4 linked regions of the Homo sapiens genome follow. The protein of the gene in region 4 interacts with the protein of the main gene of each other region in a pairwise test. Each region holds a gene or a part of one and is shown on either strand. Other genes may lie near its edges.

What was found.
Region 1: the proteins of SLC38A1 (region 4) and PGRMC2 interact in binary tests that used the Homo sapiens proteins (3 or more experiments, as listed by UniProt).
Region 2: the proteins of SLC38A1 (region 4) and RPRM interact in binary tests that used the Homo sapiens proteins (3 or more experiments, as listed by UniProt).
Region 3: the proteins of SLC38A1 (region 4) and BMP10 interact in binary tests that used the Homo sapiens proteins (3 or more experiments, as listed by UniProt).

The regions. Positions count from the first base shown.
Region 1 is NC_000004.12:128,269,982-128,278,326, forward strand, and holds part of PGRMC2 (membrane-associated progesterone receptor component 2), read right to left. Parts: intron 2,537-8,345; coding exon 2,381-2,536; intron 1,433-2,380; coding exon 1,335-1,432; 3' UTR 1-1,334. UniProt on the Homo sapiens protein: Required for the maintenance of uterine histoarchitecture and normal female reproductive lifespan. May serve as a universal non-classical progesterone receptor in the uterus.
Region 2 is NC_000002.12:153,475,932-153,483,456, forward strand, and holds RPRM (protein reprimo), read right to left. Parts: upstream 2,832-7,525; 5' UTR 2,635-2,831; coding exon 2,305-2,634; 3' UTR 1,407-2,304; downstream 1-1,406. UniProt on the Homo sapiens protein: May be involved in the regulation of p53-dependent G2 arrest of the cell cycle. Seems to induce cell cycle arrest by inhibiting CDK1 activity and nuclear translocation of the CDC2 cyclin B1 complex.
Region 3 is NC_000002.12:68,868,010-68,876,272, forward strand, and holds the start of BMP10 (bone morphogenetic protein 10 preproprotein), read right to left. Parts: upstream 3,389-8,263; 5' UTR 3,350-3,388; coding exon 3,016-3,349; intron 1-3,015. UniProt on the Homo sapiens protein: Required for maintaining the proliferative activity of embryonic cardiomyocytes by preventing premature activation of the negative cell cycle regulator CDKN1C/p57KIP and maintaining the required expression levels of cardiogenic factors such as MEF2C and NKX2-5.
Region 4 is NC_000012.12:46,258,685-46,267,029, reverse strand, and holds part of SLC38A1 (sodium-coupled neutral amino acid symporter 1), read left to right. Parts: intron 1-513; exon of another isoform or gene 514-584; intron 585-8,345. UniProt on the Homo sapiens protein: Symporter that cotransports short-chain neutral amino acids and sodium ions from the extraccellular to the intracellular side of the cell membrane. The transport is elctrogenic, pH dependent and driven by the Na(+) electrochemical gradient.

The sequences.
Region 1 (8,345 bases), on a different chromosome or scaffold from region 4:
AGTTATGCTGAATGTGGTACAATGTGTACAACTTGGTTAACCAGTGCCTGCTTTTCATTTCCAAGATTTTTCCTTATCTTGAATCAAATGCACAATCTTACAACTGTATCATAATGCACTGGCTTACAGTTCTGTATATAAAGTCCAACTCAAGCTTATTTTGGTTTATTGTACATGCTTTATTAAAATGGTACTTGTATTTACAGTATCTGCAGAAAGAGTCCCTTCCAAGGCCTCACACATTCAGACACATCCATACTGACACCCACTCCACAGCCCCATGCACCCACACCAGTGAGATGTGGAGGGTCAGACTCCTAAAATTAGGCAGCTGTTGGGGATAAGAGTTGATTTGTTTTTCAATTTTTTTGAAAACAGAAAAGCATGGGGGAATGCATTTGGCCATTACAATGCTAATTGAGTTTGTGTATATTACATATATGGCAGTTAACACTGTAATATTCCTTTTACATTCTATATACACAGAATGATATCAAGGTTTTATGGTCAACAGAATATTCCAACTTCAGTCTTAATGCTGCTTGTAGTGATTTCTGAATTCATTATAGGGGCTTTCCCTAAAAATAATTCAAGTCTATGTTAAGTGAAATAAGGCACAATTAATATTGATTTGATTTAGGGAAAGGGAAGGAAAGAGAAGGGATAAAAACTGGTTTCAAATGATCTTTCTGTTGGGGAACTAGCTCTGACTTAAACCCACCTGAAATTCCTTCTCCTAATTTCCAAAGATTTCTTTATAAAGATATTTTTCTTTTCCCTGACAAAGCCAAAAAGAAAAGTTTGGGAATTCACATTTTAATGTTTCAGTAGCCTGAACAACTCAAATTGATGTGTACCCCCACCTCCCCTGATCAGGTCGCCTCCCTCACCCATGTTAAAATAAAAACACAGTATGTGACACAGGAGTCCCTTGATGTTTCTTGAGGAGATCTGTACACTTGAGTAGCAAATACATATCTGGTTGTCTTCAATATATTTTAAAAAGAAAGAAAGAGAAAGAAGAAAGGAAAGAAGGAAAAAAGGAAGGAAAGAAGTAATATTGTGACTTTCTTGCTCTTTAAAAAAATCCCTGTCTCCTTCTTTTCAGGATGATGAAGCCCCACTAGACATTACAAACAACTGCAACAAATGAGTTTGGCAGCATAAATAATGTCTAGTTATTCAAATCTTCATAGTGAGATTAATTTATCTTGTACACAATTTGTTGAATGTTTTTCGCAGCAGGTGAATCAAACCCAAAGACTCCGGACAGTCTGTGAAAGGGAGTAAGAATTGCAGTTCTGAAGGCCCCTGACTTTGGTTGTTTACAAAGTTCAATCCTGTTTATTGTGATCCTTGGTATCTTCTTCATCTGTATATTCTGATGGTTCTTCTCCTGGTTTTAGGAGTCTGCCTACATAATCATATTTTTCTGAAAGATACATCAAAAGAAAATCAGTGGTGATCAAATTTGTTTCACTATTCCATTATACAGAGAAAAGGCATTTGTCTGTTTTAGAATCATATAAAATATGATTATTAGAATATTATCTAAATATTCTAAAATTGCTTCACCATGGCTGGTCTTTATACACATGTAAAGCCTGAACAAAAGAAAACAGGATTAGGGAACTTATAAGGCTTGGGAATTCTTTGCAAGAGGGTGTTCTGTACCAGTGATTCTTAGTTGGATACTGCATCAGAATCACTTGGAGATCTTTTTTAAAAATGAGTAAGTCCAGGACCCATCTCAGTACCCAGCTAAACCAGAACAGCTGTTCCAAGGGACCCAGGGGTCAGATAAACAGCTGGGACAGCATCACACAAGTGGTAAAAACTGATGTTATGAGGGCATAAGAAAGGGGAAAGATATTTTTTATCTACATTTCGAGTGTTAAGATCTGTAAAATCATTTTGGAATAAATTATAGTATTGAAATCAGTAATCAACTCAGTTTTAAATATAAGCCTGTATTTTTAAAAAACTAAACCTTAATGAAGAAGCTGACTGTAAGTATCACAATTTTTGAGGCTTAGAATTTGTAACAAGTCATTTTTTTAAATATTGATTTTCAAAATAATTATCACATGTAACAATCATATTTTTATTTAGCTATTTTTTGCAATTTCTTTTTTTGGACAAGTCTCACTATGTTGCCCAGGTTAGTCCTTGAACTCCTGAGCTCAAGGGATTCCCATCAGCAGCTAGGACCACAGGCATGTGCCACTTCACCCAGCTTTAGCTATCTTTAAAAATATTATCAAATAATGATGGCAATGAAAACGGATGACATCCTTAGGCTCTTAAAGCATGTAAAATAGTATATATTTTCTTTGAACAAATATTTAATTTTCCAAAGAATCCAACAAAATAAAAATACCTTTAAACTGCATTTCCCATTCTCGAACACTCTCCATTTGTACTGCATTCAAATCTGAGAGATCATCATATTCATCTCTAAGTGCATCTTTATCTAGGCAAAATGTGGCCAGTCCTCTGGAGGCATCCCTACCAGCAAATATTCCATATGGACCCGCTGGAAAAAAGAAAATAAATTATTTAGATCACCTAACAATATTTTAGAATGTCTCAAAGGAAAAAGTAAAAAAAAAAAAAAAAAAACACAACAAAGAAAAAAACCCCTCATAATTCACATTTGTATATACCCTTAATTTCAAAACATGTACAGATACTAGATGGAATAAGAAAAGAAATTTGTTGGAAATCTGCCTTTTGACCCAAGTAAAGCTTTTCACTTAGATCTTAAAACCCTCAATTTCAATTACTTCAGATATCCCCAAACTTAATATTCAAAATGAAGACTGTGAGGTAATGAGGGAGAAGAAGAAACTTAAGTGGTTAGGTTTAGAAGCCAGTCTGCTTGAGGGGAAATAATGTTTACTGGTTGCTGTTAATAGTGGCATCAAAAAAATAAAAATAATCAACAGAACATCATGTATTATGTAAAGACTCAGCTGAACTTGAATCTGTAACATTTTTCTTTCTGCTATCCTTATGAAGGTTGTAATTCTATGAGAAAAGAGACTGTATCATCTTTGTGGTCCCAGTGACTAGTTCAGTGCTCAACACGCATTTAATAAATCTTTGCTGAGTGGTTTAATAAAAAAAGACCCATATTCAAAATAAATCATCTGACTACCATAATATATATACAATGATCTATATAAACTAGGAAAAGTCATTAAGGAAAATAATAGCTCTTACTTGTCATGACTTTTGGAAAACAGAGGAAGTAGCTATAAGGAATAATTCTTCTGGACTGACACATTAAGCAATAATTAGCATTTTATCCAAGGAATTGGGTACCATTCTCTCTGAGGAGAAATGGCATGACTGATGTGTTGACAAAAACCATTCCCAAGGTTTGTCCTTGAGAACAGCAATTTGTTCATCAATTGAGGATTTGTATCCTCAATGCCTAGCACTGTGCCTGGCATAAAGTAGGAACGTAATAATTTTCTTCCAAATGACTTAGCTGTAGTTCCGAATAAAAAGAAACTCAAGATTCTGTAAACAGATTCACTTATGGTAGGCAAAGACACTATTATGAACAACAACAACAGAGTGGTGAAAAACAGGGCTTATAAATAAAAGAACAAAGTATGTTCTGATAAGTAAACAAGCAGAAAAAACTAGAAATTCCTTGATTTTTAAATGAGCGAAATGATTATATTCATATATAAAAGTATTTAGGAAACTGAAAGTTATGTGTCAAAAAGTCTCTGTACCTTCTGAGAGTAGAAATCGAGGTTTCACTTAAATAGATATCTAAGCATTTATGAGTATTAATTTGAGTTGCTAACAGCACTGTACTATAAAGTTAACCAGATGTGAAATTCATTCTCTGAAAAGTTTACTGCATGGAACTAGAAGTAGCATTAGCAATAATTTTAAGAGTAGCATTCATAGGTATTGATACAGTAACATGAAAGTAAAGCTAACAGTTCCAGTAAAGTACATTTGTATTCTGCTTTTCTTATTCTTATTGCATTTTCCATATTGCTACATCGTATCACATGACTATCAACAATTATTTATCATTGAATGGTTATATATTATCCCACTGAATGGATGTGTACCTGTAATTTATTTAATCAGTCTTATTAACATAGGCTACCATTTTATACTTTCAAATGTGTCTTCTATATAAGAATATGGAACACAATTTACCACTGGCCAATATTCGTAACCTTCAAACTTTTTCTATCATCTCAACTGACATTCAAAAGGGTATTAACCAGGCCAGGTGCGGTGGCTCATGCCTGTAATCCCAACTCTGTGGCAGCAGTGTTGAGGTCAGCAGTTTGAGACCAGCCTGGCCAACATGGTGAAACCTCATCTCTACTAAAACTACAAAAATTAGCCGGCTGTGGTGGCGCACGCCTGTAATCCCAGCTACTCAGGAGTCTGAGGCAGGAGAATTGCTTGAATCCAGGAGACGGAGGTTGCAGTGAGTTGAGATCATGCCACTGCACTACGGCCTGGCCGAGAAAGCAAGACTCCTTCTCCAAAGAAAAAAAAAAAAAAAAAAAAAAGGTATTAACCAGTTATGTCTGTGTGTGTACATGCACATGTGCGTGCAAAATTCTACACACTTTGTGGCAATGGGTGTTTTCAGGAGGACAAGGAGAGAGACAGAGACAGAGAACTAGTGTGTTTAAAAATAAAAATTTCTAAGAAACAATGATAAAAAAAATCTATAAACATTATATTTACCCTTAATGCTGACTAGACCAATGCTTATAAACTTAAAAAAGCAAAAAGTGAAACATACAAAAGGAAAAATAAAACTAATAAAGGCCATAACAATCTACAAATGGAAAATTATAGGTTCAATTTTTAAAAGAATTTTCCAGCAACCTCACTTTTCTCTCTCAGAGTTTCCCAAAGTGGAAGGGACAGACTGCCTTCCCCATTTGGCAGATAAAAAACAGGAGCGGAGGCATTCAGTGTGATTTGCCTAAAATTACTGACAGAACTGAGAGTACTATTTCCACTTTCCTAAATCCTCCAGTGTACCTCAAGAAAACACATAGAAGACTCACAAGCCCAAAGATGGAGTAACGACCATGAAAACTGGAGCATTTTACTACTTACAAAATTTCAAGGGAATGAAAATTTTAGAATACTTATTAAATCAAAATGGAAGAGAATTAACAAAAAAGCTCTACTTAATAGCTTTTCTAAGCATTCTATTATAGTATTTATCTCCATGGCCTGCAAACATTAATCTACTTCAGGCACTTCAGAGTATAAGCCATAAAACACATTTAAATGATACAAAGGAGAGAAGATAAAATCATTATAAAAACAGCAATCAGAAAGCCCTCCATCTTTGAGTATATTAATATATACCAGTGCATTCTCTATTAATTTCTCTACCAACTTCCCTAAGAAAGCTTCAACACTGAATGAATAATAATAATAAAAAATTTCATAAAATATGCTCTTTCTGGGGTACTGGGGGTAGGGAATGATTGACTTGGTAAGAGTGAACTTGAGTCAACAGTTAATAATCCAAGCCAAATTCCAGACAAATGATGTTCTGTTGACTCTTGAATAGAAAAGAATAATTCAGTGATTAACATATTCCCCCACTCCCTAAACTATATTAAGCTGTCTTCTCCATATGTTTAGAATTTCCCTCAGGAAGCATTTAACTTCTGCAAAGGTCTTTTTAGTAATAATTTTCTATGCTCTTTCCTGTAAGACCATTAAAAAAATTTTTTTTGTTGTTTTTTGAGACAGGGTCTTACTCTGTCACCCAGGCTGGAGTACAGCGGCTCAATCATATTTCACTGTGGCCTCTACTTCCTGGGCTCAAGTAATCCTCCTGCCCTAACCTCCCAAATAGCTGGGACTAGAAGCATGGCCCACCAGGCCTGCATAATTTCTTTTATTTTTTGTAGAGACAAGGTCTCCCTATGTTGCCCAGCTGATCTTGAACTCCTGGCCTCAAGCAATCCTCCTGCCTTTGCCTCCCAAAGTGTTAGAATTACAGGCCTAAGCCACCATGCCCAGCCTTCTGTAAGGCCATTAAAGAATATAACATTAGGAACTAAAGTTGGAACTGGATGGGTTATTCTGAGGAAGGATTTGATGTCTAATAAAAGGAGATTTCCCTGCATTCATAATACAACCAGGAGCTTATCTGAAAAGTCAGCAATACCTTCCCATTCCGTTATCCCCTTACATAAAAAACCTAAATATTTACCAATTCTAATATTTGGTAAGTATACTTGGCTATTCATAATACTAAAACAATAGGGAGCTCCCCAAATAAAGCCAATTTGAAATGGTTTAAGTCTGTTGCATGGTATAATTTATTTATTTGTATTAGTATTTTTTTTTGAGACAGAGTCACACTCTGTGGTGTGATCTCAACTCACTGCAACCTCTGCCTCCTAGGTTTAAGTGATTCTCCTGCCTCACTCAGCCTCCCAAGTAGCTGGGATTATTGGGTGTGGCACCACGCCCAGCTAATTTTTATATTTTTGGTAGAGAGGGGGTTTCACCATATATGGTGGACAGGCTGGTCTTGAACTCCTGACCTCAGGTGATCCGCCTACCTCAACCTCCCACAGTGCTGGGATTACAGGCATGAGCCACTGTGCCCAGCCTAATTTATTTTTAAAAAGGCTAGTTTACATGATCTGGTTATTTTTTATTATTAAGGCTCATTTAGACACTAACAGTTCAGTAGTAACTAGAAGAATTAAATTCTGTTGCTTTATCAAATATTAAAATATAATGCTGATCCAAAAACAGCCTCCCAATTTTAAGCAAATTCGTGCTACAAAAAATGAACAGCATTATTCAGTCAAAGCAAATACTCTGAAATATACTTACATAACAAATATTCAAGGACATCATTTTAAAGATAAATTTTATTTCAAAGCTATTGTTAAATATACCAACAAGAGGCAGGCGGATCACGAGGTCAGGAGATCGTGACCATCCTGGCCAACGTGGTGAAACCCAGTATCTACTAAAAAATACAAAAAATTAGTCGGGCATGGTAGTGGGCACCTGTAGTCCCAGCTACTTGGGAGGCTGAGGCAGGAGAATGGCGTGAACCTGGGAGGCAGAGCTTGCAGTGAGCTGAGATCTCGCCACTGCACACCAGCCTAGGCGACAGAGCGAGACTCCATCTCAAAACAAACAAACAAACAAACAAACAAACAAACAAAACAAACCCAACATGAAGTACTATACTAGTCAGAATTCAGATTTCATTTAGTTTTCAGTGTCAATCCAACTTGTGGTCAAGATATTTTAAAGTTCAATAAACCTATTTGTTACCGTATCCTAAAACTGCTTACTTTAATACAATCAGTTAGAATGAGGTGACATATTCTTGAAACAGCAACAACATATGCTCATTGTAAAATGTTTTAAATATTAATTTAATAAACAGAAAATTCCAGGAGGAAGTAAATATGTAGTAACAGATAATTTTGTGATTATTAGGATGATTATATAGCTACCTTAGTGTTTCTAAAGGGATATTTTAATTATTCTCACAGTTTAAAAACCATATCTCTCAGAGATGAACTTTAATTAATTAAAGTTTATCAACAGTGCAGTTTTCAGGCCTGTTTTGACAATAATCTTTTGTGATTATAAATTGAGTAACTAATAACACTTAGTATTGGGTAATTTATTTCAAATAAGATTATAATCAGCCTATCAACAAATGAGGCAATATGTAAAAGTGATTAACTGAACTAATAAATTTTTTTATGCTTAGGTCCAGTAAGTCCCAAGACTTTTAGAGAGAATGCAGTATGGTAAAACTGAAATAATACCTCTCAAGAAGACAGATACTTGGGTTCTAGAGGATCCACTCACAATCAACAAGTCTCGATTTCCATAGTCCTTAGATCCCTCAAATATAAATTAGGAAAATTATTTTACCTGCCTGAAGTTGAGACCAAACTAAATAATCTCTTGAATAGTATGATTCTATAAGTGACTGAAAGTGCAATCTTGCTTCTGAAATTTGAGCTACTGTCAAAAGCGCTCAGCAACATTGTGAACTGAGCATATGGCCTTAACTCCAGGGTGCATGGGTAGGCTGGGGTAAAGAAAAGACAGAAAAATTAAAAGCCCAGGCCCGTGCCACTTATGGGAGTGGGGCCTGAGTTTATGCAACCCATGCAGAATGAAAATTCCAAGGTGAAAAAATAGTATGAACTCAAATATCTATAAGAATTAATGAACACTAAAGATAATACTTCAAGTATTAGGAAAAAGGGATTATTCCCCTGTTGGGGAAACATGTTGGGACAACTAGATAACCTTCTGTTAAAAAACACAACCCC
Region 2 (7,525 bases), on a different chromosome or scaffold from region 4:
TAAAATAGAACATTGCCATTTCTTGTCCTGTCGGTTAGCAAAAGTAGATTGCTTTCCAAGACTCCTACTGACTACCTATTGACTATCTCTTGACCCTGCCCCCTGCCCAGATACCAAAACAACAAACAAGCAAACAAACCCTTACCTGTTTAAAAGACAGGAACAACAAGCAAAACTTCAAAATCCTCTTTTCTCAATCCTGATATCCATTAGAATTCAAAAAACCATCCTAGGTTGTGATTTCTAACAAGGTTTACTTGAGAGCGAAATGGACACTTAATAGTGGATATGACATTAAAGGCACTCAAAACTTTTGATCCCAATCTTTGAGTCGTTAACATTGTTTACACCAGTTGTGCTTCTTTCTGAGTAAATGGAACACTTTATTATTATTTGATTTTAGTTACTCTTATAGCTGCCATTGTGAAGTCTTTGAAATTTTAATTGCTATATAGCATCCTAGTGGATTCTTTATAGTCTTGAAAATATTTAGGATCCTGTCTCAGGCATAAAAATAAACTGCTCAAAACCTTTTGTCAAGTTTATGCTCGAAGCTATTGTATCCTTTGGGTTATTTTCACAGGCACGGTTTTTAGGCGTTTCTTTCTAACACTGTTGAATTTCTGAACCTTAAATGTGTCAACGGCCATCTGTAGTTCTACTCCAAATATCCTTCCCAGTTGGGGTTGTAATACTCATCTCCCACATTCAGGACCTCGGCTAACTCCTCTCAACCCTTTGCCTGGTCTGGGGCATACTAAATTACAAAGAACAGGCTGAATCTTTTAACGTGGTCTTTTTGCTAGAAAAAGTAATATCACAACGACAGTAATGCATCTCATGTTTTAGTAACAATGGTTTACCCTAGGGAGCATTAACGTCACTAACGTCACTGTGTACCTTAGCAGCTACTTTTCCTCGCATTTTATAATTCCCCTTCCCTCCGCCCCCCGGCCCCACCCGTGGGCAGCATCCCAAAGCCGCCTGGCTGACGTTGGTTAGGGTAGAGACGCCCTCCCTAAAGGCTGTCCAAGCCGTCTCTTCCTTTCATTAGCGGTGTAATCCTGTGTTCCCGCCGGAGCCTGGCACGGAAGTGTAATCTTCCCGCGGGGGCCCTTCTGTCGTCTCGCCTACCTGAGAGCTGAGACTAAATGAAATATAAAATATTCACGATAAGAGGAAACAAAGGATGCTGCCTCCAGGACGGCTACTGTGCCTGAGGCTGGGCTCCTTCTCAGTCATCCCAGGGCCTCTCCGTCTGGCCCCACCCTCGCCCCTCCAGGGGATCCACAAGTTGAATCGCAGCTCTCCAGGGTTAATTGCCCTGGCCGGGAGCCAGACTCCTCACCGCCGCCCCGTTCCCCCCTGCTGGGGAGCGCAGAATGACCACCAGGAGGCCAGGAACAAAACGCTTAAATGTTGCATTTATTAAGGAAATGTTAAATAAGAAAAAAACAAAAAGTCAAAACGGTGTCACGGATGTCAAGAGCACTTTTGTGGCGTAAACCGTGCAGTCACGAGCTACGAGTTCTATTCTGGGTCTTTGTCCCAGGGCCAGCAGGAACGCTAGACGCCTCCCAAAAGACCCAGTGGGAAATGCACTAAAAGAAACAACTCACCCCGTTCAAATTCGCAGGCTCCCCCTCCCCCCACCCCTTCTCCCACAATGACAAAACTGTAACTCCTCAGGCAGGCAAACAGGCCACTGGGGCAGAAAAAGACTTATCAAACATTTGTATTCAAGCAAACAAACACAAAACCTCTTAAAACGGCACGTTACAATCAAAGGTATTTATCGCCCCTCCCCTCCAGGGCAGGGGGGGAGCAGGAGAAGAGTGGGAGCGCACCCGGACACGGATTTGTGAGACCCCATGAGTCTGCTGCGTGGCTTTTAACAGGTCACTCTTCCGGTCACAAGGCGATCAGTGCCGCTGGGTCTCTCCCCTGCCCGCCCTCTCCACCTGCCCCCAGAGCTTGGCCCACCTGCGGGTGGAGAAGGGCCTTCGCACCGTCGGTCTCCCCGCATTCCAAGTAAGTAGCAGCTTCCAAAGTTCTGCGCCCTAATCGCCCTCTTCTTGCCACTTTCTGCTGAGTTCAGAGTCTGGGCGCTCTCCTCCGACTGCCAGGCATGAGGACTTTCAGAGGGCGAGGGAGAAACCGGTCGCTTCTTTCCGAAAGGCCGAAGTCGAGAGAAATAATTGACTCCGACAGGTTTGCTTCGCCCAGTCTCTGATAGTGAGGGGCACAGCCGGGCTAGCAAAGTGGGCAGGCGTGGGAGCGGTTGCCGCGGGGGCAGAGGGCGGGTCAGTAGGGCCCCACGACCACCGCCTCCACCTCCTTAGACGGCCTCCGGTCCTTCACGAGGAAGTTGATCATGCCCTCGGACTTGATGAGCAGATTGCAGCCGAGGAAGAAGATGCCGAAGACCACGGTGAGTGAGAGCACGCACATGACCGCGATCTGCACCACGCGCATTATGTACAGGCTACGCTCGTCCGGGCCTCCCTCCGCGAAGCCGTCGTCGGTCACCACGGACGCCTGGGTGCAGCAGCGCACGGCTCGCTCCAGCGCCTCGCTGCTGTTGGCCAGGAACAGGCCCGCCACGTCCGTCTGGTTGCCTAGGGCCGGATTCATCGCAGGAACGGGCGGGCGCCGCGAGCGGCGCGGGTCCGAGGGGTGGGAAGGCGGCGGCGCTGGAGGAACAGGTGCCGGGCTGAGCGCTCACTCGCAGACTAGCGCGTGCGAGGGCTCCTCGCTCTGCTTTCGAAAGTCCCTGGGCCGTGGGAGTTTCCCAGGAGCCTCTCCGACGCGCGCAGCAGCTAGGCTCTTCTAAAGCCGTCCGCTCCAGCCCTGGTGGTGCTCGTTCCCGGCGCTCGCTCGAGGGGGGGCTGTTGGAACTTGGCGGGGCTGGACCAGCCCGGCCGTGGGAGGTGCGGGCCGCGGCGGCTGCAGCGGCGGGGTGGCTGCGCTGAGCAAACAGCGGCCCCTTCCGGCCGCACCGCCGCGCTGCGCGCTGCTCTTGGGAGGTGGAGGAAGCAAAGGGGCGAACCTGGTCTTGCTTTTTATTGCTTGCTTCTTTTGCAAACTCCAAAGGCCAGGCAGAGGTCACTGTACTCTTCTAGCTTGATGGATGATTAAAGAGTTTGTCGGGGGAGGGTGCGGTCAGCTGAAAGTTTCAGAGGAACTGGGACACACGAGCTCTGCGTGTCCTTTGCCTGCTGCCCCCCTGACCTCTGGGCGAATGGAAAGTGGCGATGAATCGCAGGTGCCAGATGGTGCCGGCTGAGGCCACCCGCCCACTGCCTGTGCTTGACTCCGACTCGCCTGCGTTGGATTTCTAGTGGAGTGGAGGTGATCTGAGAATGTTTCTTACAAAGCAATGAATTTGGAAAGACAGAAAGGCATGGAAGAAGGAAGGAAGAAAGGAAGGAAGGAAAGAAAAAAGGAAGGGAGGGAGAAAGAAGAGCTCTACACCCAGCTTCCTTTACAAAAGCGATTGGGAGACAGAGCAAGGCAGGTTTTACCGTGAGGTTTGAGGCCAAGGAAAGAGGGTTAGAGGAAGGAGGAGTTCTTCTGTGGCCCTTGGGTGGAGGTAGTTGCCGGGAGCAGGGTCACCTCTCTGGTAAAGGAGGTGAACAGAGTGACCACTTGCTTGTAATTTTAATTGCAGATAAGTTTTTGGATGTGCTTCCAGCATTTTGTCCGTTGGCAGTAAATCAGTTGTTGAAGGGAATTGCTCATCAACATCCATCACCTAGAACGCTGGCCAAATACTGGGAGCCCTCCCCATTTTCCATAAGCTGATGTATTTCACCCTTAGTCATTTAAACTAAACACAGATGTTTTTATAGGCCTGATTGACGCTTCAGCCATTGTGATTTTGCTCTAGGTTCCAACGAAATTCTATAAACCTGTCAGATTAAGTTTCTTAACTCTGAAAGAATATTGCATGTTCCCGCTCCCCCTTTTCTGTTTTCTTTCCCCTCCCTCCTTTTCCCCATTACTCCCTGCCTTCCTCCCTCTTTCTTTCAGCTGTAACAGCTGGAAACCAGTAACTTGAGCTTCCAATAGAATACATTTACTTTCTATTAAATGTTCTCACCACAAAGAACTGATAAAAATTTGAGATAATGGGTACGCTAATTACTCTGATTTGATCATTCCACATGTATATGTGTATCAAAATATCACTTTGTACCTCATAAATATGTACAGTTGTCAATTAAAAATAAAATAAAACTGAAAAATAGTAGCTGTCTTGCCATTTTCAACTCTACTCTTAATTTCATTCTGTTTGCTTGGTAAATCCTCTTATTTCTGTTTCTTAAAACATCATTTATTCCATCTTCAGAGTGTTCCTTAAATGTTTTTGCACTGCTTCATGACTATCATAAAATAGAATGAAATGCCTTCTGGTTGAGTTTTCAATTTTTTGATATTTATGGTATATCAGCTGCAATAAGTTTGATTTTTTAAAATAGCTATTATTATTTTGAGGGGGATGTTTAACAGCTGAAAATTCAGGCTTGGGCTTCTACCACAATTCACTGGCTTATTGTTCTAGTTTCCCATAATTTAATTAGAATTGAAAAATACCTCACTCTCGGCAATTTCTTCTTTGAAGAAATTTATTAATAATTGATAAGTAAGAATTTACTTAAATCTCATCATACAATCAGTCTATCTTAGTTAATGTGGGTAGTCCTCAAGAATAATAAAACGTAATGTATACATGGAAAAAATTACAACAAATTTAAGGCAATATAAAGTCATCCTGAGATGAATGGTAGAGAAAAGTAATAGAAATTTAGAAAAATAAAAGGTCAGAGAACAGAGGCCCACCTCCAGGGATCAAGTTGTACAGAACTGTGTGTTCAGTAGAAGTTAGGTGTAAGCAAATGGAGAGCCCCTTCTTTATGTGACAAAAACCAAGAGTTAGTTTATAGTACATTTGTAAGATCCAATATGGAAGGATGCTAAAAGTGTTAGTTGAATCATTATCAGAATTTGAGTATATTTATTGCTAGGAACAGTATTGCTGTTTTCGTCAGGTCAGTGTTAAAATGATCAAACCTTGGAGTCAGGAGAGTTTTTATATTTAATCAAATCTTTGGGTGGGATCTTTTCTCTCAGGTTTAAGGACTAATTAGTCACAAAATTGTTGACAAGGTAATAGGTATTTCCCCCATCAGCTAGTTCAGCTCTCTGGTTTTGTTCAAGACAATCTTGGGATTGTTTCCCTTATTTTCCCTCCACTCTGATTTTGTTTAATAAAATTACTTAGAACATATAGATGGAAATTAATTATAAACTTAGTCATACAAAAATTATATTTATTATTCATTCATTAATTGACTTAAGGGGATCTGTGTTGCTAGAGAAATCTTTATGTTTTACAGAATCCCTTTTATTTATCTTTTCCTTTTGAATTTTCAGTGAACAATTTCAGTTTTTCTCCTTTTATTCACCTGTTTCTTAGGAGAATCTCACAAGTGTGAAAAAAGAAATCTTTAAGAAATGTTGACATTGAAAAACTTAATTTCCAGAAAAATGGATGAACATATGGTATGCAGGGAGCATACTGGTAATTCACTTTAAAGCAAAGATTTTTGATACTGAGAAAGACTAACTGCTGTATTTATTTAACTAGTGTCCTCTTCTACTTCATTGGAAATAGGTAGGTGTGATTTTATGAGAGTTAAAGGCCCAGTATTTTATAACATACATGTTACACAAGGACAGAAACACTGCCTACTCTTTCTGGAAAATATATCCTTGGCCTATAATGCATTCTGTAAAGGTATTTTTACAGAATGCTGATATGGATGGTTGCTGTAATTTATAGTTTGAATAGCCTTGAAGTAGGACCAGATACTCAATGCCAAAAGATTTTTGATTTTCTCTTTTTGTACATTATGAAAATATTAAGCAGATATTTTAAAAAAGGAAATATCAAACATTGAAAGGATATTTATTGCTTTGGGGCAAGCTTTTTAAAAAATAAATTACATTATATTACACAATGTAAGCAGGAGTAAGAGTAAGAACTCAAATTCAGAAGCCACTCATAATAGCAGATTCCATAGCCAAAACATAAGAAAAAAGCCAGAAATAAGCAAAATAGTTTATTGAACCACCAAAATAAATGTCGTAAAAGCTAAATACCTAAGCTCATATATTTCACCCTTAGATTATCCCTCCCCAAATTCTTTCTCAGAACCTACGACTTTGATTTTTCACAGTTTTAACTCACTTCTTTGTCTATTTTTCTTAATGACAGGATATCAGTATCAACATGTGTTCTGAAGAGGAGGAAATGGCTAGGGGGTAGGTGCTTTTACAACCACAAAGAGTAACAACAGAAGGAAAAAACAGAATGTTAAACAGCATACACAGACTTTCTAAGAGTATTAAGTAATAGTTTGGAGACATTTAATATAGAGACAAGCAGTCTAAATGGCAAGTAGACTACATAAAGGCATGGCTTTCAATCCTGTTGTCTTTACTTACAACCATGTAATCTTGGGCATGTTTTTTGTTTTTGTTTTTGTTTTTTGAGATGGTGTCTCGCTCTGTTGCCCAGGCTGGACTGCAGTGGCACGATCTGGGCTCATTGCAACCTCCGCCTCCCAGGTTCAAGCGATTCTCCTGCCTCAGCCTCCTGAGGAGCTGGGCTTACAGACATGCACCACCACACCTGACTAATTTTTTATATTTTTGGTAGAGACAGGCTTTTGCCATGTTGGCCAGGCTTGTCTCAAAACCCTAACCTCAGGTGATCAGCCTGCCTTGGCCTCCCAAAGTGCTAGGATTACAGGCGTAGCCAACGCACCCAGCCTTTTTTTTTTTTTTTAAATCCTCTATGTACCTCATTTACTTATCTGTTAAATGGGGATAACACTTTACAGAATTTTGAAAGGATTGATCTATTCTATGGAAACAACTGGAAAACAGTACCTAGCACATAGCAAGATCTCAAATACAGATATATTGCAATAGTTCCTGAGGTGGACATCAATATGCATAAGTCATTAAATGAAAAAAGCCATTAAATTTTATTCAATAGTTTTCTTCTAAGAAGTCTGGAAAGTGAGTGAAACATTTTAGAAAGATTTCCATATAAAATGGTTGACCTTGGTGAGTAAAAAATGCTAAGGATGTGGAGAAATTGGAACCCTCGTGCATTGCTGGTGGGCATGTAAAATGGTACAGCCATTGTGAAAAACATTATGGTGGTTCCTCAAAAAATTAAACATAAAATTACCACATAATCCAGCAATTCCACTTCTAGGTATATACCCCTCAACATTGAAATCATGTACTTAAACAGGGATATGTATATTACTGTTCATAACAGCATTGTTCACAATGGCCAAAAGGTGGAAGCAACCCAAACGTCCATCAACAAATGAAGTGATAAACAAACTGTGGTATTTACATAAATGGAATATTATTCCGCCTTAAAAAGGAATAAAATTCTTTTTTTTTTTTTTTTTTTTTTTTGATACGGAGTTTTACTCTGTTG
Region 3 (8,263 bases), on a different chromosome or scaffold from region 4:
GGGAAATGCTGACCTACAGAATAAATTTAAACTCCCTGGCATGGCTCTCAAGACCAGCTATATCTGGGTCTTAACCTCCTGATCAGCCATAGCTTACATACGTCCTCCACAGTGCATGGAACATTGTGATTACTCAATAATATTTGTGAACAATTGAATGGATTTGTAAACCCTTCTGTTTTAACTACATTGATATCTTTACCACCTGTCAAAACACTCTTTTTTTCCCTGCAATTTTCACCTTTTCACATGTTCTTCTGACCCTTGGAAAGCCCTTTCACCTCACCTCCACCTATCCAGCTCTGACATCTCCTATAAAAGCCTCCCTTACTTCTCATCTGAAAGTTCCCTCCTCTCCCCTCTGAAATCATTTGATCACTTTATATCTCCTTTGATCCTTGTCATTTACGTCCTTATATTTCAGCCATCTTTTTATGAATGGATTTTCCCAACTAGATTGCCATCCTCCTGGTTTGAATGGCTCAAAACTCCCTTCTATGTCTCTATCCTACTATGATGGCTTAAACAGAGGTAGTGCTTTAAAAATATTGATTAGTTGATGATTCTAGGCACCAGACTAAATTGATTTATGGGCGTGACATATGACCTTAATCCATCATCAAGCTCTTGGGTTGGGCTTGGGAGTTATTCTTCCACTCTAAGAAGGGAAGAGACTTGACTCCCCATGGACAGGGAACATGGAAGAGTAGGCTGGTTGCTCTACCCAGGAGAAAAGTATAAAATAAGAGCTCACTGTAGTGGGAGGAAGGCATTACAAAGTATACAAGGAAGCTTTTGGTTTTAATGGATATATTCATGATCTTGATTGTGGTGATGGTTTCAATGAATGTTACATATGTCAACACCTTTCAAATTATACACTTTAAATATGTGCGATTATACTTTTATACATCAATATTTTTATATGTCATATTTTTATAAGTCAAATATACCTCAATAAAGCTGTTTTGAAAAAGTAAGTTCACTGTGAAGTTCTGTGCATGTGCAAATGCAGTAAGCAATAGATGGAAGAGTTACATTTCAGGGCAAGAGAACGAATGTTTGTTGACAAATTTCTCATGCCAGGTGCTTTGCAAGCATGATCTTCTCTGGTTCTCACAATGACCCCATAATGCAGGTATTGATTCTCTACTCGTTTTGCACCAGAATAAATCAAGCCTTGATGCAGATAACTGATTTCCCCAAATGACAAGGTGATAAAGGAGCACGCTTTTTTCACCTTGGAGGTGGCACTTTTTTTTCCCAAGATGGGGTAGGTTTGGAGTTTTTTTGGTCTTTCTCTCCTAGGGAGCTGCACTAAGCAGATCCAAAGAGTCAGAAGAGAGGCAATAGTAGCCAACAGGGCATGTCCTGTGCGATTTCTGTCCTCAGGCTGCACATTTCCTGCAGACTGGCAGAGGTGCTGGCGGCTGGGTTGTTTACTAAGAGATGTGTTCCTGCCCTCAATAATCTCCAGTAATAATAAGCACAGTAAACTCCACATCCTGACCTGGATCATCCAGATACTCTATGAGAGAAGTGAGAACGGAAAACGTTTCTAGTTTTCCAGGGGATGCAAACAACATTTTCTCACCCACACCCTGAGCCAGACACTTAGGGCTCAGTGCTGAGAAGTATTAGGGAGGGTTCTTACAGGAGGAAGTTGTTCATTTTCAATTCAGACTCACCTCCAAAAGCAATCTGTAATCTCAACTTGCCATTTCCATGAGAAAGATATTATGAATTATAAATTTTGGCAGCCAACTCAATTTTAAAGGGAGATAATATCTTAGGGACTAAGGAATACCTACTCAACATTTATTCCAGTACCTAGAATATTAAGTAACTCATTAGTAGTCACTAAAGTTTGATCAGCACTTCATAGTAAATGGAGTGCTTTCTTATCTGTAACCTCCTTTGAGTCACTCAACTATGTTATGTAGGTATTATTACTCCCACTTTATAGATGAGGAAATTGAGGCTCTGAGGCATCAGCTAATTATTCACAACCACTAAGCCAACTAGCTCTCAAAATCCCAAATCCTGAGCTATTTCTTCACTATTACCTTTCTTCTTTCAAGAACATCTGGCCAATATTAACGGGAAGCTTCTTTTATACCTGGTTAGTGACTATAAAAGCATAACTGGCAAAAATTAAATTAGTTCCTTTGGACCTTCAGCTTCTACTATAGATATCTAGATATCAGGGGTTTTTTTTCCTACTAGGACCATATTAACCAAAAAACAAACAAACAAACAAACAAACAAAAACATTAACTTGCTAGCTCATTAGATTTAGTTACCAAATTTAAAGACCTAAGAGAAGAAAACACACTTTTCCCACCAATAATTCAAAGCTTGTACGTTGCTCTTTATAAAGACGGAAATGATGAGCTGGATGATTAATGGGCCATCTACACTTCCTGGAAACTGTAAACAGTGCTTTAAGGATGTACATGACACATCAAACAACACAGCCTTAGGAAGAATCTTTAAAATATATTTCCATCCTGTTTGAACATTTCTTAAATAAGGTCACAAAATAAAAACTTATCAAAAGTTTGAACAAAACACAAATCACAATTTGATGTTTTTTGACTGTTTTTACCCTTTTTATTCTAAGTAGAAGTTGAGAAATTTTTTAGTTAATTAAAAGCCCATATGGCAATCAAGGCCTATTTGGAAAATGACAAAGGTACGGCAGTAGACCAACATTAATTCTTTGTATTACTTGGTGTTCAAATTAACATTTTTTAAAAGGACCCAATTATGATGTCAAATTGATAGATGTTTTGTGGCTTTGGATTAAAAGATGTTTGTAAGTATTTTTCGAGGTTCCTGAAATGACTATATAATTGGTATAGAACAAAATGTGCCTTGTTTTTGTGTATCCATATGTATTTAACATCCTTATATAGATGTATTTACCCTTACCTATATCATTCCCATGCATTGTAAATTTACTTATTGTGTCTTGAAAAAAATCCTAGCAAAATTTCATCAGCAAAAACTTACCTTCATTCTTGAAACTCCTAATGATGTTGGCAGAGGGCATGGAGGTCCGATCTGTTGCAAATTTGTTGTAGAGTTCCAACATGTACTCTGGTGGGTCCACCTTGGCTGAATCCTGCGTGGGGATGTCAGAGAGGTTTAGTGTCTTAAGAAACTCATCCTTCATGCTCTGGAGCAGTGTGTTAAAGTCGACACCGTCTTGCTCTGAGAAAACATCACCAAAGAGGGACATATCTTCTTCCAGAGGAGACTGCTCTAGGTTCATGATGGGGCTGCCAGAAACCAAGTAAGCTGCCAGGCAGAAAAGAGCGCACAGTGTCAGGACCAGAGAGCCCATGACTCCGCTCGAGCTCCTAGGCCAAGCCAGGAAGGTTTAGCTTCCCTGGGCTCTAAGTGGCAGTTTTATCTTGTGGAACGTAAATGTCTCCTGTCACTGGAGACAAGTTTGGAAACTCTTCCTCTCTCTCTCCCTCCCCCTACCACTCTTCCTCTCCCCCTAAAAGTCAGGTTGCAGTAATTGGATAACAAAATCCCCTATAGGGGCCTAGCCTTTCTTATCTCCCTAGTGTAAACTTGTGCACCAGAATTTGTTTCTATCTTGCAATCCCTATTTCTTTTAATGAGCATTTTGTAAACATTTCCACATTCTGACACTGGTTGAGAGATAGGACAATTTTCTCTTTGCAAAGGCTCTGCTTCTCTTCCCTTCAATTCACTTCCTTTCAGCAGGAATGCCTAAATTCTGTTTTTATGGGGCTTAGTTTCACACATGCATATAATAGGTATAAGAATCAACATAATGCACATCAATGGTGATACATGTTAATTTGAGAGGTAGGGCTCAGATAAACACTTGTGAAGACAGACCAAATATCCAAACTTTCCAAGTTTAAGTTAATAGCTATAAATGAATTATATAAATTTTTAGAAGTGTACCTTTTTAGAAACAGGAAAGTATAAACTTCATGATTGACAGGCTTTTTCCTACCTATTTGATCTGGCTAAAATAGCATTTGAAAAATAGGGCAAGTGCTTAGTTATACTGGCAACTAGAATTTATTAGATGCTTCCTACAAACAGGCATTGTACTGAGTGCTTTACACCTATCATCAAGTGTGCTCCTGTAATAACCGTATCATTATCTCCATCACATATATGGGTCAGTGAAGTGCCATAGCTTGCCAGAGGCCACAAAGTTGCAAAGTGATGGGGCCACAATTTCAACCAAGGCAGCCTGATTCTTATGAAGAATAAAACAGTCACACTTTTAAACCACTCTTCTACCAGACTAGGGCATGGGCAATAATGCTGAGAGGCCAACACGTCCCCAGATCAGCCTGGAGGCAGGAGGCAGGCAGAAATTTGTAGCTGGATGTGGACCTCAGGTCCTCCATCTGTGCAATGAGTTGTTAATATAACCAACATCTCTGCGAAATTCATCCTTCTGACTCAATCAAAATTGTCATCAAGAGGCTCCAGCAAAAGCTTGGTGTGATGGTTAATACTTACTGTCAACTTGATTGGATTGCAGGATGCAAAGTATTGATCCCGGGTGTGTCTGTGAGGGTGTTGCCAAAGGAGATTAACATTTGAATCAGTGGGCTGGGAAAGGTAGACCCACCCTTAATCTAGCTAGGCACCATCTAATCAGCCGCCAGCACGGTTAGAATATAAAGCAGGCAGAAAAACGTGAAAAGACGAGACTGGCCTAGACTTTCAGCCTATCTTTCTCCCATGCTGGATGCTTCCTGTCCTTGAATATGGGACTCCAAGTTCTTCAGTCGGGGAACTTGGACTGGCTCTCCTCGATCCTTAGCTTGCAGACAGCCTATTGTGGGACCTTGTGATCGTGTGAGTTAATACTTAATAAACTCAGAAATATATCTCCATCCCCTATTAGTTCTGTCCCTCTAGAGAACCCTGACTAATACACTCGGCAAACAACATTACTAGGCACACAAAAAACGCCAAATGCCTTGGTCCTGAAAATAAAAATGGTAGAATCGATTGTGTGTCCAGATTAGGAAAGACAAATCAGGTTCATCACATTTTCCATTCTAACTAGTGACAGTAGCAGCCGGGGTGCAGCCAGAGAGGCCCTGCGGACAAGCCCAGGGGATGTTTTTCCCACTGAGGTGGTAGTTCTGGTATCTTTCTGACGTGCACACCATTACTCACGCGTCCTGGTGCTGTGTTCCAAGGGCTGTGTCAAGATATTTGGTTCACTGGAATCCTTTCTCAGTTTCTAGGTTAAATTTTCCTATATTCATGCTCATCGTTTAGCTACAATGTCTCCACTTAACTTTTTCTCCAGGCTCACTTAGGTTTCTAGTCATCTTTTGATTCTTTTTCCTCCTAAAATGTACAATGTTACAGCCATTTTTTAAATTACCATAGAAAGAACCATATTTTGTTTAGTAGTTGTTAATTGTCTATTTGTTTAATAGTTTTGATTTTGATTCAATGTTCAATTTTGATTCAAACTTTCTATTCCCATAGTAAAACGACAATTGTAGACTGGAGACAGATTATACCCTGAACAGTCCCACAAGTGAGTGAGTGACTCCAAGGGCCAGAAGCCGTCCTTCGGGTGGTTCGTTTTCACATGAGGTTTCTGACAGCATACCAGCAATGCCCTGTATCATGTCCTGCATCCAAACAGGCACCCATTTATCTTCACACACACACAGATGTCAACGCACACTCCAAAACTCTGAATGCAGGCATGTGCGTGTAACTGCCACAGGACAGCAGTGTAAGTGGTGGTACTTACAACCCCTGAGCACACTGGTTTCAAAGGTCACGGGGAGAGACATGCATCCCACATTGCGGAGTTCTAGTTCTTTACATTCTTGAGCATAAAAACATTAACTGAGACTTCACTGGCTTCCCTGTACTTGGTGTTAGAAAAACTACAGGGTCAAATATTTGGATCCATGTTGATATTTGGGGATGATTAAAAGATACAGTAGGAAAATGACTATAGCCATATTTCAGACATTTCAAGATATCAGCGTGTCTTGAGACGCATGCTTGGTGAAGGTTCTTAAACCCATACCTGTGCTGGGTGGACAAGGAAGGAGGTTGGCTTCATGCTTGGAGGAAGGGGACATAAGCTCTCTCCCTCTTCCAGGCCTGGGACACCTCACATCTTAGCTGCAGAGTCTCTTTATCCCCATATTTTTCTCTAGAAGCTTTTTCTGATGACTCTCATCTGACCCTAAAAGGTCCAAATGTCTTTACATTCCTACCCCTATTTTGATCTTTCTGGATGCAATTCATTCTATTCTTTTGCACTTATCTCATTATTTTGTATCCTTCTCATTTGGAATGTGTTACGGTTCATTCAGAGTGGATGGGCAGTTTCGTGAGCCAAAGATGTAAAAGGTATGTTTAGATGTTTTAAAAGAACCCATACATGTGGAAAGCAAAATATTAATTACACATTATGCTTTTCCACCCCACTGCAAAATGCTCCAGAACCTCTGATTTGCAAAGTTCTGGGCCAGTTTTTAAAACTAGTTCCATAACTGTACAAACTTAAAGAATCTAACATTGAACTTCATTGGATTCTCAAAGGGATCTGGGATCCAGACATGGTCAGAGCCACTGGACAGCATCCTGATGAATTCTGCTGTTTCCTGTGAGTAGTGCACAGCCCCTGAATAAATGCAACCAATAAAATTATCCTGAATGAAAAGAGGCCAATGAAGTCAGGAGGTCTTTGAACATGACTCTAGGTTCTTGGAACCCTCTCTACCTTGGATCCCACTTCAGAAGCATTACATTACTCCTGCTACCTTCTCAGGACCAGGTGTGATAATAAAAAAAAAATTTAACAAGCTATACGATGGGTTTTGCCCATTTAACTTATATATGAATTGAATCATGTTATATGTTTTCTTCCAAGACTTACTTTTTTGCACTCAACAGGATTTTTCCAATGCACACTTGTTGATGCCTGTAGCTGAGTTCATTGATTTTCACTGAATTGTTGTCAGCTTTATAAATACATAAAAATTTCTTTGTACGTTATACTGTTGATAGAGACTTTGTTTCTTTTTTTCTCATTATTTACAGTACTACAGTGAATAATCTTACTGTTATTTTCTATTTAAGAGATTCTCGGCCAGGTGCGGTGGGTCACGCCTGTAATCTCAGCACTTTGGGAGACCGAGGTGGACGGATCACGAGGTCAGGAGCTCGAGACCAGCCTGACCAACATGGTGAAACCCCGTCTCTACTAAAATACAAAAATTAGCCAGCCATGGTGGCATGTACCTGTAATCCCAGCTACTCAGGAGGCTGAGACAGGAGAATCACTTGAACCCAGGAGGCAGAGGTTGCAGTAAGCCAAGATCACGCCACTGCACTCCAGCCTGTGCTGGCTAATAACCACCATGTTGGACAGTGCAAGTCTAGACTTTATTTAGTAAGAGTAAATATCAGAATAGAATTGCTGGTTGGTAGTCAGAAAAGACTCCAACAATTTTACATAATGCCAAATTGTTTTCGAAAATGGTTTTCCCAATCCTGTGTCTCCCAGCAAGAGTTCGTGTTGTTCCACATCCTTGCCAATGCTTATGCTGATTGACTTTGGGGACTGTAGTTGAGTCTTGGAGGCTCTCTCTTCTGCTCTTCTCTGCCACTCATTCCTGAGAGATGCAACAGAGCATGTAGATTATCACCTTGAGAAAAGGTATAGTTTGGGCTGGGAAACACTGTTTTAGTATTGTGTTGGCTTCCACACCCTATATTAAATGACAGCCCATGTAAAGCATGGTGTCCAAGAGCAAAAAAATTTATTGAAGGACAGGAAAGGAGACTTGCATGAATGTAACAATATTCCAAGTCAATGGATAAGAAGACAATATAATAAAGATGTTAAAAAATCCCCAAATCAATATATAAATTCAATAAAATGTCAATCACAATCCTAACAGGACTTTTCATAGAACTTGAAAAGATGATTCTAAAAGCTATATGAAGGAGCAAAGGATTAAGATTAAGTAAGGGTACTCTTAGAGAAGAATTAAATAGGAGAATTTTCTTACCAATATTAAAATCTATTAAAAATCAGTAATGATCAAGATAGTGTGGCGTTGGTGTAGGAATAGATCAATAGAATAAAAAAGAAGTTGGAAAAGGACTCACATAAATCCAAAAATTGACATAGAATACCTGACATCACATATCAGTAGGAAAAAGATGATTTCATGAAAAATGCAGGGATCATTTATGAGAAATATCA
Region 4 (8,345 bases):
AAACCTGAGCTCGGTGCATGGCTGGCCTCGTTGTCAAATGTCTCATGCCAATTTGGTACTCCCGAAATCTTGCAAAACAGCCAATTCCGGGGTACTGACCTGGTGTGGACCCCCTGGATTTTGGTTCGACCCCAGCCTCAAAATGGCCTTTCTCTTGAGAGTCACTCGATTTCTCAGTATGTCGCTGTAAGCAATTGGAAACTGGAATAGTTTGGTTTGAGGTCTTAATCTTGAGGTTTATTCGCTTTTTAAAAAAATGTGGCCAATAAACATTTTCTACAGAGGGCTTACTGTGCGACTGGCAGCAACTAACAAGATTTGTTTCACCTTCTATGAAGCTTCCGTTCTCAGGGGGAAATAGACTATATAAATGTAGGCATATACATTTCAGGTATTCTTAGTGCAATGAAGAAATAAAACAGGATCATGTGATGGGGGAGGATGCTTGAAATAGAGTGACTCACCGGGAGGGGCGGTGTGAGGGTATAACATTTGTCCTCAGACCCGAATGATGAAAAGGGATCAGCTATTTCCATAATTGAGGGAAGAAGGCCAGCGGAAGGAACAGGAAGAAGGAACAGCAAGTACTTATTGCACTCTTCTTTGACTGTAATATAATTGAACAGATAGATGAATAGATTTTAAAGGTGTTTTGGAGCTTTAAACCTATATGTATGTTGTTTATGTATATTTTTTATGATGCTTCATGAATTAAGGCCATTTAATGAAAGGAGCACCATGTTTCTGATATCTGACTATTGCTACTCTTTTCTTTACTCTGGGTGATGCTTGTGGACAAAAACCGATTTTACTCATTGTTCCTCTAATGTCCAGCACATAGTACCTGCTTAATAAATACTTGTTGGATCGAGACCTTGAGACCTTGATCAGGCCATCTTGTTCATCTCTTTGTGATATTATTGGCCATCCCTTCCGTTCTATATCTCATCTGTTCCCCTTCTCCTAAGTTTGAAAATGAGAGTCTTTTTCTTCTCTGCTTCTCCTTCTCGTACTGCCCTTCCCACTTTGAGCAGTGACCAGGCCCTTGAAAATACCCCTCACACTTGTCCTCTTGTCTCCATTTCCACTGCCCAAGTTCAGGTCCCTGTCACCTTACCTAGACTTGGAGACATATGAAACAGATATAGAGGTGCCTTGAACAACCTAGGGGCAGTGGGAGTGGGCGGTGGAGAAAAATGCAAGCACAACATATGGTTAAGAGTGAAACAGCCAGTTACTGAGGTGGAACAGCTTTCCTGTTGGTCTCTCCTCCATATCAAGTTATGCTCCCCTAATTAAATCTCCATTCTTTCATGAGGTTTATATTTCTAAAATTCAGTTCACATTTTGTTAAAGGACCTTGCTTTTAAAAACCTCTGAGGGTTTCCATTGCACACAAATACAGTCTAAATTCCTTAGCCATACACTTAGGACCCTTCACAATCTGCCTTCTCATCTCTTTCCAATTTTTTCTCTTGATATTTTCTTTCTCACAGTTCACCCTATTCCCTCCCTATCACTTTTCTGCTTCAATATCTGTGTGGATTGGATTCCAGTCCAGAATGCCTACTGAAATCCTGTGTACTTGTGATGGCCTATCCCTGATGCCACTTTTCCACCTCTTGGGAGAAGTGTTCACTGATCACCTCACTGGCATTTTCATAAGTATTTGTTTATCCTTCACATTTTGGACTGTTGTTACTCCAGGTGATGGAAGGTGGTGAATAGGGGCTTAGGCTCTGAGTCAAATATAAATATCAGGCCTCAGCTTACTCACCCAGGAATCTTGGGCAAGGTGTTTGGCATCTCTAAGCCTCAGTTTTTTCTTTTGCTAAATGGGAATGATGATGCTGGTGGTAGTGTTGGTGGTACCCACTTTACTGAGTGATGGTAAAGATTTAATGAAGATAATGAATGTGAAGTATTTGGTATAGTGTTAGCATTCCATATGTATTGAATTAAACATATCTACCAGAGGAGGGAGAGAAAGTTGATCAGTAAAGTTCCCTTTACCTCTGAAATTCTGTGACTATGTAATCTTTTAAAAATACTTTTCTGAAAATATATCTTGATGGAAACTACCTGGATCTTTTTAGTCTCTGGGAGAATATACATCTATGAAAGGTGGTGAGGAGGTAGGAGAAGTATGTGCACAGAAGTACTTTGAAGAATGTGTGACAGACTTCGAAAAAGACATCTTGTATGCAAAGGCACACAGAGTAATATAATGGACTGTGGAGACTCAGAAGCCAGAGGTTGGAAGGGAGGATGCCAGATAAAAAGCTACAGATTGGGTACAATGTGTACTACTCAGATGACAAGTGCACTAAAGTCTCAGATTTCATCACTTTCAATTCATTTATATAACCACCAAAAATCACTGATACCCCAAAATCTATTGAAATAAAAAAATTTTAAGTAAAATTAAAAGATTAACTTCAATAACCTAAAAAAAGACACTGACCCTAGATTTAAAATAAGATTTTAAATTTAAAAATATTGTTGTACTTATTTCTGAAAATTGATCACATATTTGTTTTCTAGTGATAACCTTACTAATAACAGAGGAGTTCCCCTAACCATGTTACCTTCCCAATCACTGAATTCCTCTACTATTAGTAAGTAACTCTGTTTCAAGTGAGGTTACAATGTGTCTTTGGCAATAACTAGCTGGGTACCCTTGAGCAACTCATTTCACATTTTTATGCCTCATTTTCTCATCTGTCCAATGCTAATAATAGTATCAGTGCTGCGTACCTCAGAGTTGTGAAGATACAATGAGAGCAGAGCTGAGAAAGTCCTTGAACAAGTTTAAAAAAACTATTCAAGATGATAGTCATCTGGCATTAAGCATGCTGCTAATCTTCAGGGTCAGGTGATGGTTTTAGATTAGTGAGTCTCAGAGCAGACTTCACATTAGACTCATCTAGGGTGTTTTAAAAGCTGTCAGTGCCAAGACTTCAACTCCAGAGATTCAGATTTAGTTGGCCTGGGATGGAGCCCAAATATGGGAGCTTAGAAAATATCAGGGGTGATTTTGATATGCATTGGTTTAGATTTAAAGCAAGGAAAACAAAACAAACATCAGAAATTAAATGAGGACCTCCATATGTTGCTTGACAAAGTCTTAGTCTTAGTAGTGTGAAATTATGAGCTTGACTGACTTTTCCCCCTGATTTTACTAAACCAACCATTTGTTGACATCATGGAGCCACAGCCTCAGGTTACAGTTTATAACCTGAATTTTCCCAGGCATAGACGCCTGTCCAGTGATACAGCCAGAGCCACATGAAGATTTAATGTGTAGATCTCAGTTTCCATCTCTTAGGAATGGCGAAGGTTGGAAAAGAAAGCGACAATGGAAAGGAAAAAGAAAGGGATAGGCTATGGACCAAGGTATAGGAGAAAGAGGCTCTGAGCAGGAGACAGACAGGTCAGAGCACAGAGAAAACACTGTGTTTAATTTATTGAACCGGTTTTGTTTAGGTTGCAAACTGGTGGCTAGAGAGCCAAATTAAGCTTGTGGGCATATTTTATGTGACTTACGCTTTCTTTTAAAATTATTTGAAATTAGTTGCCAACTCTTAAATATCAGAATTTCACTTAGAATTTTGATTTCTGGCATTTATTGAAAAACATAAAAATAAAAAGACCAGGCTCATTCCTGCCACTAGTTGGAGGGAAATAGATGGGACATGTGTTCTCTAGTTCCTTATGCCCAGTCTGCTTTGCCCATTTATCTTACCTACCTGAGCACTAGCTTCTTTTGTTTTAACTTTTATTCTCAATCTGGGGATCTTAACATTGGCTGCACATAAGAATGCTCTCCTCTGGAGAGCGTTTAAAATAACCATGCTTGGATCCTGTCCTATACCAATTAAGTCAGAGACTGTTGTGTGTGTAGTGTCCCCTTATCACTTTTATTTTTTTAAAGCTCCCCAGTTTGTTCCAATGTCCTGTTAGAACTGAGGCCTATTGGCCTACAAAGGCAACTATTCAAGAGATTTGTCTACAAGTCCACCTTCTTATCTTTGGAAGTGATTCATTAAGAAATAGTGTATAGAATCATTAATTCAGAGAACTGGGAGAGGTCTTTGAGAGAGCAGCCATTAATCCAATCTTCTTATTTTAAGGTGAGGAGACAGAGACCCAGAGAGGAGAAAGGAATTGTTCTGAGACTGTAACCATCATCTGGTATTGAATTATATAGTGTCTTTTATTACATTTTCTCTTTTCAAATAAAAGTCTATTTTTAAGATTTCTTTTTATAAATGATCCTCTTTATATGCAGCACTTTGTGATGCTTTAAAGTTCTTATTATTTCTGTTTTTCCTTGAGTATTTTGTTAGGAGTCATAACTTAGCTAGGGCTTAAAAACAAACACACAAAACTGTATCCATCTTTTTTAGTACAATAGCAATCCTTGATCAGAAATATCTTTAGAACAAAAAACATATATGCAAATAAAGAGATTTTTCTCAAGGGCTGAAATATTCCAGGCTGTTTTCAACTGCATGAGTTTTTAGTAATTATTTAAATCCATTAATTTTCAATTGACAAGAAATATTTTTAATTTTGTTGGTATTCACACTACTCATATACACTCACTGTTCTAATTAATTAAGATTCAATTCTTTTGGTGTTTTTTTTTTAAATGTAATATACAGTCTGTCCTCCTATATCCAGTTATAGGTTGACTTCATTAACTTTAGAGTTTATTTTTTCTGTCTTGAATAAATTGGAATTGTTTCAAAATTTCTGATATAGATAGGTTAGTTACCAACATCATAAGCTGGTCATGTTGATAACAGACATTTAAAAGATCATATGGGAACTTGAAGACAAGAGGAATTATGGAACGATTAAGAGCAGGTTTTGGGATCCTGTTAAGATAGGATGCACTGGGCAATTTGTCCAAGGAAGTTAGCGGTTCATCTCCATGCCCCACAAAGAGGGGGTCCATACTCATCCCCTGTGAGCTTCTGTAACACAGGGCTTCTTGCCCTTCACACTACTGGCATTTGGGGCCAGACAGCTCTTTGTTGTGTGTGGCTGTCCTGTGCATTGTATGATGTTTACCAGCATCCCTGGTCTTTCTCAACTAGATGCCTGCAGCACCCCCTCACTTACTGCAACCCAAAATGTCTCCAGGCATTGCCAAATACCTCCTGGGGGCAGGGAGAGGGACACAATTGTCCCCAGTTGAGAACCACTTCTTTAATACAACTCCTTCTCTGGACTTTTAGAAATCATGCCAAGAATTCTTAAACATTCCAAGCATAGTGGCTGGGACAGTAATGATAAATACCTTCCGTTTATATAGTTCTTTACAATACTAAATGCATTTTTACATAAATCCCACACGCCCAGATCAAATGTAAAGGAGATCAGGTGGTAAACTTAATGAAAACTATGAGGTAGGGCTATCCACATTGCTTCATGTTCCCATTTTTGTTTTGTTTTCCATGGGAAGATGGTGTTTGTGATGCTCACTGAATATATTGTCTGCAGGCAGGTGATCATAGCTTTCTTTTTAAATTTAGTCCTCATTTTTATTGTTAACATGTGTTTACTGTCACCATATACTAGACCTTTGAGATGTATGGTCCTTGTCCCCAAGGAATTGAAATTGTAAATAAAAAGATTACTGAAATATGAGCCCCCTTGCTATAAGCCAGTGAGTAATCTACACGAAACTGCTGTAAGAATTCATCACAGGTAAACAGTCAAGCAGGTTCTCAACTGGAACAATTATGTCCCTCTCCCTGCCCCCAGGAGGTATTTGGCAATGCCTGCGTTGGTCATTGGAGAAAGGCATCACAGAAGAGTTGGCTTGAATTTTTTAAAAAAGCAAGCAAGCTGGGCTTTGAAAGAAAGGTCATACTTAAGTTAGCATAGGCTTCATGGGAAGGTGGAGAGGGTGTGTCCAGGATCAGGGGGATGGTGTGAACAAAGCAGAAAACTGCATAAGAGTAGACCCATTGCAGGAATGGAAAATTAGAAGGAATATAGTGGGAGCATAAATTAAAGAGAAAGCTGTCTGAGGTTCTAGAGATTAGACCTCATCCTGTAGAGGGAACAGTTATGATTGGCAAGGCAGAAAGAGGAATGTGCAAGACTGTCTTTTCAGGAAGAATCTGCCTCTATAGGTGGGAGAGGGCAAGAAGCAGGAGGTAGCGTGGCGGAGAGTGACTGTGGCAAAGTTCAGGCTGTGAAACTGTAAGGAATAAGGGAAAGGAAAAGGATTTTGTGAAGGAATGTTGGCAGGACTTGGCAACTGATTAGATATGAGGTTGTATGAAAGCCATACTCAAGTTTCAAGTCTGAGTGACAAGGAGAAGGTGCATTATATCTTTAACAGAAATAGAATGCTGGCATGTGAGGTCAGGTGATGCGTTCTGCTTCAGGCATGTGGAATCTGAGGTAATGATAAACATCCTAATGGAGCAGTCCAGAAGGCAGCAGGAGTCTGAAAAGAATTTATGGAAATGTTTCTGAGAAGGAAAGAACCTGAGAGATAACCTCTCTTTCATGCCCTCTCATTTTACAGATGAAGAAACATGTGACATGTTAAGTGGCATGATCATGATCAAGTTGTATTTATGAGGGAGATCCTATTTCATAACGCAAAGGAATTCTAGTTTTATAAAGTGAAAAAGACTGGGAAGAAAGATCTGAAAGATGCCTTTGTAGAATGAAACTTGACACTACAGCCCTGAAGCCCTAAAAAGGAAAGAATTTGGAATATGTGGAGCAAGAAGAGTCGAGGCCCAAAGAGCTACTTCTACACAGAAAGTTGGGAGGAGGAGGGATCTGGCAGAGGAGACCAAGAAGGTCTTGGGAGGATGCAGTGTGGAGTTATTTGGGAGAAGTCAGAAAACAGGAACAATGGTCACAATAATTTACAAAACCCGGGCCAGACGCTGTTCTAAGTGCTGCACATGGACCAAGTCATGGAATCTTTATGACTGTATCAGATGGGTATTGCTTTAAGTCCATTTTACAGATGAGGAAACTAAGGCAAAGAGAAGTTAACCTTCTTTCCTGGGGCTACACAGCTTCTAAGTGGTGGAGCCAGAATTTCCTAATCAGGCATGATTTCAGGGGAGTGGTGGCAGGAGCAAGTAGTTTAGAGACTGCTAGCAGTAAAGAGAGGGGTGTGATGATAGTTCAAGGTTCTAGACAGAGTTATGTTCCAGATAAAGAGCTCTGAGGATGATGGATGTCAAGAAGGGAAGGCAGAGAGAGGAAGTAGAGAAACAAGGTCCTAGCAGAAGAGCCAGGACCTTAAGCACAGGTTAAACCATTAGTCTTGGGCAAGAAGAGAGTAAAACCACTTATTTTTCTGAGACCACTTACTAGCTTCCCAGGTTTTTCACTACCAAAGGCCATTTTTATTATTCCCCACCTTCCAAAAGCCCCAGATTTTCAAAGATTTTGATGATCGGCTTTAATTTTTTATTTTAATTAAAGTATAAATTATATGCAATGCAGTGTCCAGATATTAAGTATACTATTTAATGAGTTTTGAGTGTTGACTTTAATATATTAATTCATTTCCCATTTTTATTACTCAAAGGTATATAAAATTGCCAATCAAATTTAGGATTATCACATCAAGTTAATGAAGCCTTGCTAACAGTATGGATACCTCACCATTTAGTTAACCTGTTTAGCCTGTTTGAGGCCTTTTGAAATATAGATCCATGTTAGTTCTTAGATCCTTATCACTATCATCTATGAACCCTGAGGATCCAAGAACCCCAAGTGGGTAAACAGACACAGTCAGTTATGGGACTAGCTGGCCCGGAATTATAGAACCATTGTTGACCTTAGGCTTAACACTTTCTCCGCTTTAAAAATTATATGTATTTAAGGTGTGCAACGTGATGTTTTGGTATACATATGCGTGGTAAAATGGTTACTAGAGTCAAGAAAATTAATATATCCATCATCTCACGTGGTCACTTCTTTTTTGTGGCAAGAGCACCTAGAATCCACTCTTTTAGCAAAAATCCCATATATATAATACAATATTACAGGTTGAGCATCCCTAATCCAAAAATCCAAAACCCTGGCTGGGCACAGTGGCTCACGCCTGTAATCCCAGCACTTTGGGAGGTTGAGTTAGGTGGATCATCTAAGGTTAGGAGTTCAAGACCAGCCTGGCCAACATAGTGAAACCCCATCTCCACTGAAAATATAAAAATTAGCTGGGCATGGTGGCATGTGCCTGTAATTCCAGGTACTCGGGAGGCCGAAGCAGGAGATTCTCTTGAATCTGGGAGGCGGAGGTTGCAGTGAGCAGAGATCTCATCACTACACTCCAGCCTGGGTGACAGAGT